Linked DNA regions of Homo sapiens: region 2 is linked to region 1. Evidence: fine-mapped expression QTL. A gene starts in region 1. The other region holds a variant in brackets. All regions are shown on one strand. Distances are between the middles of the regions. Region 1 holds the start of LINC03052 (long intergenic non-protein coding RNA 3052). Region 2 has its middle 4.1 kb from the start of MRPS5.

Region 1 (5,377 bases):
CACCTGGAAGCAGCAGACACCCAAGGCTCAGGGTAGAAGTGGGGGCTCCATACCATTCCCAGTGCCAACTTCCCATGGCAGAAACAGGAAGGAATGTCTGGCAACCCACCAAGGGTCAGACGCCACATCAGCCTGAGCAGAAGCTGCCTGACACTGGCTGTTCCAATGACAATTAGACGTTCTTGGGAAGGTGGCGCCCTTTGTGGGAGCTCAGGATGGGTGTCCTGGAAGTGCCACTTAAATGGCACTGAGGCCTCTCAAAATCCCTGTGTTAGAGCTGCAGCTCTCCATGTGGGCTGCAGTGCAGTCACCTATGGAGCTTTAGGACAGGCCCAAGGCTCAGTTCCCTGGGCCAGTGCCTCAATAACTTTCGCAGTTCGGCTTGGAGAAGCGAGCCTGGGAGACCACGTGGCACTGCCTGGCTGGGTCCTGGGCTGACAGAGGTGAGCGTGGGGCTTGTGGTGACTTGGTAATGCTGTGAATTATGTACGTGTGGCAGGAAGGTGCCACAGTGCTAAGGCCCCGCATCTTGGAAATTCCATAGGGTCCACATGAGGATGAACTAAACACCAAATGCAGTCCTCAAAGGAATAATAAAACAAATACCCACATAAGGGAATCTCTGGAACTGAGTCTGGAAGAGGGGGCTGCCTGGTCCACTCCAGGAGAATTTGCCTAAAACAAGTTTGCTTCTCATTGCATTCTCTTTGCTTCTTCTAAACATCACCTCCTCTAGAGGTTACATTACACCCCATTCCTGTAATTTACATCATTCTGGGCTCCTTACTCTTGTTGCATCCTTTTTTACATTTTAAGGATGCCTAGATTCGATTTACTTAAGAGCATATACGGCTTAATTTTATATTTCTGGTAATCATTTATTACATTTCCCCCATTTTATCAAATGACACATTTTTCTCATGTCTATTTTAATATGTTAAAGATTTTTGTATACAGTTTATCTAAAACTCCTTGCTTAAAATGAGTTTAATTCTAGCAATACAGACATGCCTATCTCTGCATTGTTTTATAATTTGACGATAAATGTTTTTCCTCAATATATGACTGTATTGGATAATACTTTTTAAAAAGATACAATAAAATCTGATCTCTCTGTCTCACTTGATCATGTGGCTGAACCAGTCAATCCCTCCATCAAATAGAAATATCCGGCATCACTTAATCTAATTAATAAAAACATCCACCCATGATGAGAAGACCAAAGCAAACAGCCCAAAAAGGAGAGAATCCCATGATTTCTGTGTAAAGTCCTACAGATATCATAAATATTTATTGCTGGAAACAGTGTTTTAAATAAAAGGTCTTCAGGTAAGTGTATAAAAACTTCCTTGGATACAAGGGACCCTATCACTTGTAAAACTTGGCAAATTGGACAACAATTAAAAATACAAAATTACACAGAAAATATCCTTTAATAAATTGATTTTTTTTTAATTGAGACGGAGTTTGGCTCTTGTTGCCTAGGCTGAAGTGCAATGGCGCCATCTTGGCTCCCTGCCACCTCTGCCTCCAGGGTTCAAGCGATTCTCCTGCCTCAGCCTCCCGAGTAGTTGGGATTACAGGCATGTGCCACCACGCCCGGCTAATTTTGTATTTTTAGTAGAGATGGGGTTTCTCCATGTTGGTCAGGCTAGTCTCAAACTCCTAACCTCAGGTGATCCGCCCGCCTCGGCCTCCCAAAGTGCTGGGATTACAGGCGTGAGCCACCGCGCCTGGCCTAATAAATTAATCTTTAAAAAAATCTTAATTGAGGTTCTCTAAAGGGAGCCTTTTAGGGAACATGCCCCCTAGGTGTACTGATTGCTAGGGTGGCTGGTGTGAAGCGAATCGATGTGGCTCCCCCAGCCCCTTTCTGGGAGCATCCTAGAGAGACAGCGTGGAAACGCGCGCTGCCCGGTGGTCCCGAGAGCTGCCATGGTGCCCAGCCCCGCGGCCTCACCCAGCCCTCAAACCCCGTGCCAAGCACCCGCGGACTCTCACGTCCTCTTCTTCCAGGGCGGCGGGCGCTTCTCCTGCACCTTGGCCTGGCGCCTCTTCTCGGCCTCCTCCGCCTCCCGTTTCTCCTCCTTGGCCACCTTGTAAGGCCACTTGGGTATCCGCAGGTGGCCGCTGCCTTTATGCTGCCCTTCCGCGCCGGCCTTTTGGGTTGGAAGGTGGGCGCGGGCACCTTGCTGAGGCGGACCTGGGCACCACCACGCTGGGCCCCAAGCTGCTCTGCTGCAGGCACTGCAGGGGCAGGAGGCTGGCCGTCCGCGGGGCGGGGGCGGCGGAGCCCCAGGACCCCGGCAGCCGGGCAGGTGGGAGGCCGGCTCTTGGGGAGGCCTTTGTGGAGCCAGCGGCCGCTAGGCCGAGCGGCTTATGCTACTCTGCGCCCTCCTCTTCGCCCGCCTCCTGCGCCTGCCTCCCCCCACCCCTCGCCGCGCCGCCGGAATTTCCTGCGCCGCCAGGATTTCCTGCACCGCCAGCCGCCTCTTCCCCCAGCACAAGGTGCTCTCGGGGCACATAGTCTGGCACGCGAGGGCCCCGGCGGGGCTGTTAGAGGCTCGTGGTCATCCTGACCATGTGGTCCAGGGCGCCCCGGTCCTCTGGGCCCCGCATGGAGCGCGGCGTCAGCGCGGACAGCTCGCAGTCCCTGAGCCTCTGCAGGCAGTTCTTGGAGCCCTCGGGCTTTTGCGGCCTCTCGGGGAGCGGCGGCAGCTCAAGCTGGTACTTTTTCCCCAACAGCTCCCGGCAGGGGCGCTCCAGGAGCCTCTGCATGAGGCGGACGTATAAGTGGCCACTCCTCTGGCGACATCCCACGGCGGGGGCCCTCGCGTGGACACCCGCCCCTGCTAGCTCAGGGCTCCGATGCGATCCGTTCGACCCTGCATGGCGGCTTTCAACCCGAACGCGTCCCTCCTTCAAGATCAAGACCCTGAACGTAGTTCAACAAGTAGTTGGTGATGATAGCGTGCCCTGACTGGGCCAGGATAGCCTCTTTAGTAAAACAGCCACGAAAGTCATGAAACAGATGCTCAGCTCCTTTCTTCATTTTCACTTTAATTCGGTGATGCCTCTGTGTCTGTCTGACGACATCTCTCCTGGGGTCTGTGATTCTGCTGATGGTCTTCAGTGCCTACTGAGAAGGGTTCCTGGACATCATCAGGTATGAAAACCTCAAAGCTCTCGGTCCTCAACGTGAGAACCCTGGGCCAGCGGCATCAGCCTCACCAGGAAACCTGTTCTTCTGCTCATTCTTGGGCCCCACCCCAGGCCTATTCAAAGAAAGACTCCAGGGGCAGGGCCTGGCAGCCTGTGTTTCCACCAGATCTGTGTTAAAGCTCAAATGAACCAGCCCACGTGATGCTGACCAGGAAGCACAAGGCTGAGAGCCAGTGTCCAAGGCAACGGTGCCCATGGGGCCAGAGGCAGCTCCTGCCTGTGCAGCTGTATTTAGGGCTGCGTTCCCCTCCCTGTCCTGCCAGTTGACGTCAGTGTGGGGTTACTCAGCTAAGGCCACCACGGTATATCCACAAAGCCGTGGTAGCAGGCGACATTAAGGCTGGTCCAGCCATTGTGGTCAGTCTCCTGCGCCTTCTCAACGCTCACCCCTCGCCGCACCAGCGTCCGCAGCAGCCCCATGCCTCCTGGACGCCCTCCTCCGGGACGCTCTCCAAGCCCTCGACGCCGTGCTCCTCCTCGTCCTGGAAAGGGTACAGAGTCGTCCCAGGCTATGCTGCAGGTGTGGGGCCCTGGAACTCTTTGTAGTCAGCGCGGTCCTCCTCGACCTGTGCGCCTAGGAGTGGGGACGGCGGTGGCGGGGTCATGCAGCGCTCCCAGCCACCCTGCGGCCGGGTCCCAGCCAGCAGCACCATGCCAGCGGCCGGAGGCGTGGGCTGGGGGCCGGGGCACCGTCCCGGAAAACCGGGCGCGCCCCAAGGTCCCTGCTTCTCGCTTCCGCGTCCCCAGAGAAGCCGTAGCTCCCGCCCCCAGCCCGGCAGAAACCTCCTTTCTTTACATTATTAAGTTTGTTTTCATTTTAATTTTCTTAGGACATTGATAAAATCACTTTCGGATTTTTGAGATTAAAAATTAAATAATTTTCATCTTTACCCTTTTTAAATTTTTCACACTTTATTTTAATGCTTTTATTCTTTTGTAAATTTTAATTATTGTAATTTATATCTTCAATTATTATGGAAGAATTTTAGAAAAGTCTTTTCACATAATAAAGACTAATTAATGAACTATTATTTATTCTCTCCTCTATCTCAAATACGGACTTTAAACTTTTAGAACACTTTTTGTTTTGAGACTCTTGTTACTTATGTGACATTTTAACTATTCACTCTTCTAGTGAATTTTTAATGTCATTCAAAGGGTACATCTTTCTACACTGAGAATTAAACAAAGTTCTCAAAAATATTCTCAGATAATTTAGAATTTCACCTTCCACTGGCATGTTAAGTATGTTCTCCTTCCCTTCTAATGCATATTTTCCTCACACGTCCTCATGTTATACTCCTTATTCACCCTCCATGCAAGAGGTGATTTTATTTATTTATTTATTTATTGAGACAGAGTCTCAGTCTGTCACCGAGGCTAGAGTGCAGTGGCATGATCTCGGTTCACTGCTATCTTTGCCTCCTTGGTTCAAGTGATTATCCTGCCTCAGCCTCCATAGTAGCTGGGATTGCAGGTGTGCACCACCATGCCCCGCTAATTTTTGTATTTTAGGTAAAGACAAAGTTTTACCATGTTGAACAGGCCAGTCTTGAACTCTTGACCTAAAGTGATCCACCTGCCTTGGCCTCCAAAAATGCTGAGATTACAAAAACAGCAACTAAACGCTGGAATGATGACTGGGAACTTGTCTAGAGTCTCCAGTGATTATCCTCCTTATAACAAGGCAGAAAGCCTTCCTCAGAATTATCTGGACTGACATCACTCATTGTCCAGACCTGTTAACAGCAACAAGTGCTGTGAGTCTCAAATGTGCTCCTTCAATAATGCAGTAGAAGGCCTGAGTTTCCACATAATAGTATCCTTGAATGCCTGGAGACTTAAGGCACAAGAATGTATTGATCCTATGAACTTTATGTTTTGTAAAATTTCAGATTATGTGAGGTGTTTGGACAAATTAAGTTTCAGGGTGATATCCACTATTGAGACAGAAAATTAGTTTAAAGAATTAAGACCTCAAAGTCCAGAATGAGAAAAAATTGTTTTTCTTAGAGCCTCCTTATAACTGTCTTATTTGTTTTATAGATGTAAGTACTAGAGGACAAGCTCTACCTGATATAGCTGGCCTAGACATATGCAGATTTATTAATTGTAGAAGAAATAATTATACCTTTCAGGTAAAATGGCTATGCAA
Region 2 (5,377 bases), 400 kb after region 1:
TCTTCTTCTCCCTCCTCCTCCTTTTTCTTTCTTCTTCTCCCTCCTCCTCCTCCTCATCCTCTTCCTTCTTCTTTCTTCTTTTTCTTGAGACGGAGTCTCACTCTGTCGCCCAGGCTGGAGTGCAGTGGTTCGATCTTGGCTCACTGCAACCTCCGCCTCCTGGGTTCAAGCAATTCTCCTGCCTCAGCTCTCAAGTAGCTGGGATTACAGGGACACACCACCATGCCCAGCTGTTTTTTTTTTTTTTTTTTGAGACGAAGCCTTGCTCGTGTCGCCCAGGCTGGAGTGCAACGGTGGGATCTCAGCTCACTGCAACCTTCACCTCCCAGGTTCAAGTGATTCTCCTGCCTCAGCCTCCTGAGTAGCTGGGATTACAGGCACCTGCCACCATGCCTGGCTTTTTATATTTTTAGTAGAGATGAGGTTTCACTGTGTTGGCCAGGCTGGTCTTGAACTGCTGACCTCAGGCAATCCGCCCATCTCGGCCTCCCCAAGTGCTGGGATTACAGGCGTGAGCCATCACGCCCAGCCCTAATTTTTTATTTTAAAAACTTTTTGTAGAGGTGGGGTCTCACTGTGTTGTCCAGGGCTGGTCTTGAACTCCCAGACTCAAGTGATCCTTCCACTTCAGCTTCCCAAAGTGTTGGGATTACAGGTGTGAGCCACTGCATGTGGCCATGGCTCTTTAGGTCAAAAATATAGAGGGAACAGCTACCATCAAACTAAAACACTAGGCCGGGTGCGGTGTCTCACGCCTGTGATCCCAGCACTTTGGGAGGCCGAGGCAGGTGGCTTACCTGAGTTCAGGAGTTCAAGGCCAGCCTGGCCAACAGGCTAAAATCCTGTCTCTACTAAAAATATAAAAATTAGCCGGGCGTGGTGGCAGGCACCTGTAATCCCAGCTACTTGTGAGGCTAAGGCAGGAGAACCACTAAGGCGGAGGCTGCAGTGAGCTGCGATCATGCCACTGCACTACAGCCTGGGCAATAAGAGCAAATCTCTGTCTCAAAAAACAACACAAAACACAAAAAACAAAAAAACAAAAACAAAAACAAAAAAACAAAAACAAAAACAAAACAACCAAAAAACACTAAACACAATGAAGATAGTGAGGTGACAGGCACTATGTGGTGGCACTTAATCACTGAACAGAAGTTGGGTATGGTTACCATATAGACAGTAGAACAAACACAATCATCAGAATGGCCAGGCTCACTAGGACCTTTGGTGTTGACCTTTGGTGTTTCTGGAAATAAAAGAGATGGAGAACCTACTGAAGTCTTACTGGATTTGTATAGGCAGAAAAGATCTAGGCCTAGTGAACAGAAGTCTGACTTGAATCACCAAAAGAGGGAGTCATGTCTCCTCAATCAATTCCCAGACTTGAGTGAATTCACAGATCCAGAGTCCCTCGAGTGAAGGGCAGGCTGGGTCCCCTCTCAGGAAAGGCATTGGTACACTACCAAAAACGTACAGCTAATCTTCCTTTCAGCCTTCCCCAAAGGTACTTGTAGCCATTTACCAGGGTGACTATGCATCAAGGACAGAGAAATATCCAGATGTTTTAAGGATTACTCAACACTGCCTCTGAGCTGACACCAATTCCTGGAGACCCGAAATGTCACAGTGACCTGTCAGAGCAGAGGCATAAAGAGATCAGGTGATTGGTGGAGTTTTAGGTCAGGTCTGTCTCACGGTGGGCGCAATAGGTCCCAGAACCCATCCCGTGGTTATTCCTGTAGCTATGGGAGGCCAAGGCAGGAGGATTGCTTGAGGCCAGGAGTGTGAGGCTGCATTGAGTTATGATAGTGCCAGTACACTCAGCCTGGGCGATACAGCAAGATCCTGTTTCCAAGAAAAAAGAAAAGAAAAAAAAAGAAAATGGGCTCACATGTAGAATATACAAAGAATTCTCAAAACACAGCAGTGAAAGAAACCAAACAATCCAACTAGAAAATGAGCAAAAGACATTTTACTCAAGAGGGTATACAGATGGCAATTCTAGAAGCACATGAAAAGAAATTCAACATCATTAGCTATTAGGGAAATGTAAATTAAAACCATGATGATATGTCACCATACCTATGAGAGCAGCTAAAAAAAATGGGGATAACACTGAATGTTAGTGAGGATACAGAGAAACTAGATCTTTCACATATTGCTGGCAGGAATATAAAATGGAATGGCCACTTTGGAAAGTAGTTTGGCAGTTTCTTTCTTTTTTTCTTCCTTTCTTTCTTTCTTTCTTTTTTTTTTTTTTTTTTTTTTTTGAGATGGAGTTTCACTCTTGTTGCCCAGGCTGGAGTGCAATGGCTCAATCTCGGCTCACTGAAACCTCTACCTCCTGGGTTCAGGTGATTCTCCTGCCTCAGCCTCCTGAGTAGCTGGGATTACAAGTGTGCGCCACTACACCTGGCTAATTTTTGTATTTTTAGTAGAGATGGGGTTTCACCATGTTAGCCAGGCTGGTTTCTAACTCCTGACCTCAGATGATCCACCCACCTTGGCCTCCCAAAGTGCTGGGATTACAGGCGTGAGCCACCATGCCCGGCTGGCAGTTTCTTTAAAAACTAAACATATACTTACCACACAATCTAATAATCTCACAGCTTGACATTTATCCCCCCAAATTAAAACTTATAGCCACACAAAATCATGTACATGATGGATATATTTCAAAATAATTGAAAGCAGAGATTTGAAGAGATTATCTGCACACTCATGTTCACAGCAGCATTATTCACAATAGCCAAAAGGTGAAAGCAACCCAAGTGTCCATTGACAGATGAATGGATAATAAAATATGATCTATTCATACAATGGAATATTATTCATAATATTAAAAGTAAGGACATTCTGGCACACGCTATACCTGGATGAACCTTGAGAACAACATGCTAAGTGAAATAAGCCAGTCACAAAAGGACAATACTATATAACTGCACTTACATGAAGGGAGAGGGGAATGGGGAGTTATTGTTTAATGGCTGCAGTTTCAGTTTTGAAAGATAAAAGACTTCTGTGGATAGATGGTGGTGATGGTAGCACAACAACGTGAATGTACTTAATGCCACTGAATTGTACACTTAAAAATGATTAAGATGGTCCAGGTGTGGTGGCTCACGCCTATAATCCCAGCACTTTGGGAGGCCAAGGTGGGTGAATCACAAGGTCAAGAGATCGAGACCATCCTGGCTAACATGGTGAAACCTGTCTCTACTAAAAATACAAAAATTAGCTGGGC[A/G]TGGTGGTGGGCGCCTGTAGTCCCAGCTACTCAGGAGGCTGAGGCAGGAGAATCGCTTGAACCCAGGAGGCGGAGGTTGCAGTGAGCTGAGATCATGCCACTATACTCCAGCCTGGGCGACAGAGCGAGACGCGACGCGAGACTCCGTCTCAAAAAAAAAAAAAAAAAAGGATGGCAATTTTTATGTTATGTGTATTTTACCACAATTTTAAAATTTCTGGCTGGGCACAGTGGCTCATGCCTGTAATCCCAGCACTTTGGGAGTCTGAGGTGGGCGGATCGCTTGAGGTCAGGAGTTTGAGACCAGCCTGGGCAACATGGTGAAATGCTGTCTCTACAAAAATACAAAAATTAGCTGGGCATGGTGGCACAGGCCTCTACCTAGCTACTCAGGAGGGTGAGGCAGGAGAATCGCTTGAACCTGGGAGGGGGAGTTTGCAGTGAGCCGAGATCGCGCTATTGCACTCCAGCCTGGGCGACAGAGTGAGACTCTGTCTCAAAAAAATAAAAATAAAATAAAATTTCTAAATATCAAAAAATCACATACATGAATGTTGATGGCAGCTTTGTTTGAAATAGTTAATAACTGAAGACAGCCTGGGTGCAGTGGCTCACGCCTGTAATCCCAGCATTTTGGGAGGCTGAGGTGGGTGGATTGCTTAAAGGCCAGGAGTTTGAGACCAGCCTGGCCAACATGGTGGAACCCCGTCTCTACTAAAAATACAAAAAATTAGCTGAGTGTAATGGGACACGCCTGTAATCCCAGCTAATCAGGAGACTGAGGCACGAGAATCGCCTGAACCCAGGAGACGGAGGTTGCAGTGAGCTGAGACTATGCCACTGCACTCCAGCCTGGGTGACAGAGCGAGACTCTGTCTTAAGGAAAAAAAGAAAAGGAAAAGGAAAATAAAAATAAAAATAATAATATGAGACAAACTAAATGTCCTACAATGGGTGAATGGTTAAACAAATGTTAGTGCCATGGAATACTACTCAGCAATGTAAAGGAAGAAACTATTGGTACATGGAACTACTTGGATAGACGTCAAGGGTATTATGCTGAGTGAAAAAAAGCCAGTCATGAGATCATGTATTATCTGATTCCATTTATATAATGTTCTTAAAATGATAAAATTATAGAGATGAGAAACAGATTAGTGGTTGCCAAAGGTTAAAGATGGTGGAGGAGAGGATAAAAGAGGGGGTGGGTTTGACTCGAAGGGAGATGCACAGGTGATCTTGGAGATAGAACAGTTCTGTATCTCGATTGTGGTGCTGGATACAGAAATCTACATGTGACACAACTGCATAGAACTACACACACATACACAAATGAGTGTATGTAAAACTCATAAAATCTATGGATTGTACCGATGTCAGCTTCCTGGTTTTGATGTTGTACTATAGTTATGTAAGATGTACCATTTGGGGAAACTGAGTAAAGGATACATGGGACCTCTCTGTACTATTTTTGCAACTTCCTATCTGTATCTTTGAATCTGTAATTATTTCAAATTTAAAAGTTAGAAACAAACGACTAAGTAATCAAAACTTGCTTTGGGCCTTAACAGAGTCTGGAGGCTTGACCATTGACCAGCAACTTACCATGCAGTTTAAGCTGCTCATCATGAACTGGCTGTTGTATGATCACCAAGCCATAAAGTTGTGTGTGCACAGCAACACTCCATCATCGAATGGAAGTGGTACATATGAAACTGAACTGGAGCAGGACCTGAACATGCAAGCTACATGATCTTCTCTCTCTCAACCCCTACCCACAGCTTCATGAGGAATTACCTGTGACCAGTTGCCTGAAGAAGAAAACTCTTGGGCTTGGTTTACTCATGGTTCTGCATGATCTGTTGGTATCACCTGAAAGTGGACAGCTGCAGTACTGCAATCCCACTCTGGGATGCTTCTGAAGGACGGCGGTGAAGGGAAATCCTCCCAGTGGGAAGAAGATAAGAGTAATGTGCCTGGTTGTTCATTTTGCCTGGTTAGAAGTATAGATCTATACTTTTTCATGAGCAGTGGCTAATGACTTGGCTGGATGGTCAGTACTTGAGAGGAACATAATTAGGAAGTTGGTGACAAAGAGGTCTAGGAAACAGGTATGTGGATGGACTTCAGCCC

What was found. PIP is the estimated chance that this variant, and not a neighbour inherited with it, causes the effect.
Region 2: its variant is fine-mapped to the expression of LINC03052 in whole blood (TOPMed, PIP above 0.99).

What each region holds. Positions count from the first base shown.
Region 1 is chr2:95,523,844-95,529,220 of GRCh38, reverse strand. LINC03052 (long intergenic non-protein coding RNA 3052) reads left to right here and starts at 2,467. Exons shown (of 1, transcript NR_182300.1): 1 at 2,467-4,348. It also overlaps the pseudogene ANKRD33BP1. RefSeq lists an enhancer at 1,928-2,057 and a silencer at 2,198-2,487.
Region 2 is chr2:95,123,265-95,128,641 of GRCh38, reverse strand. It overlaps a transcript of ZNF514 not described here. Among named protein-coding and RNA genes, the nearest start is that of MRPS5, 4.1 kb to the right of the region's middle. The variant A/G (reference allele first, on the strand shown) is at 3,245.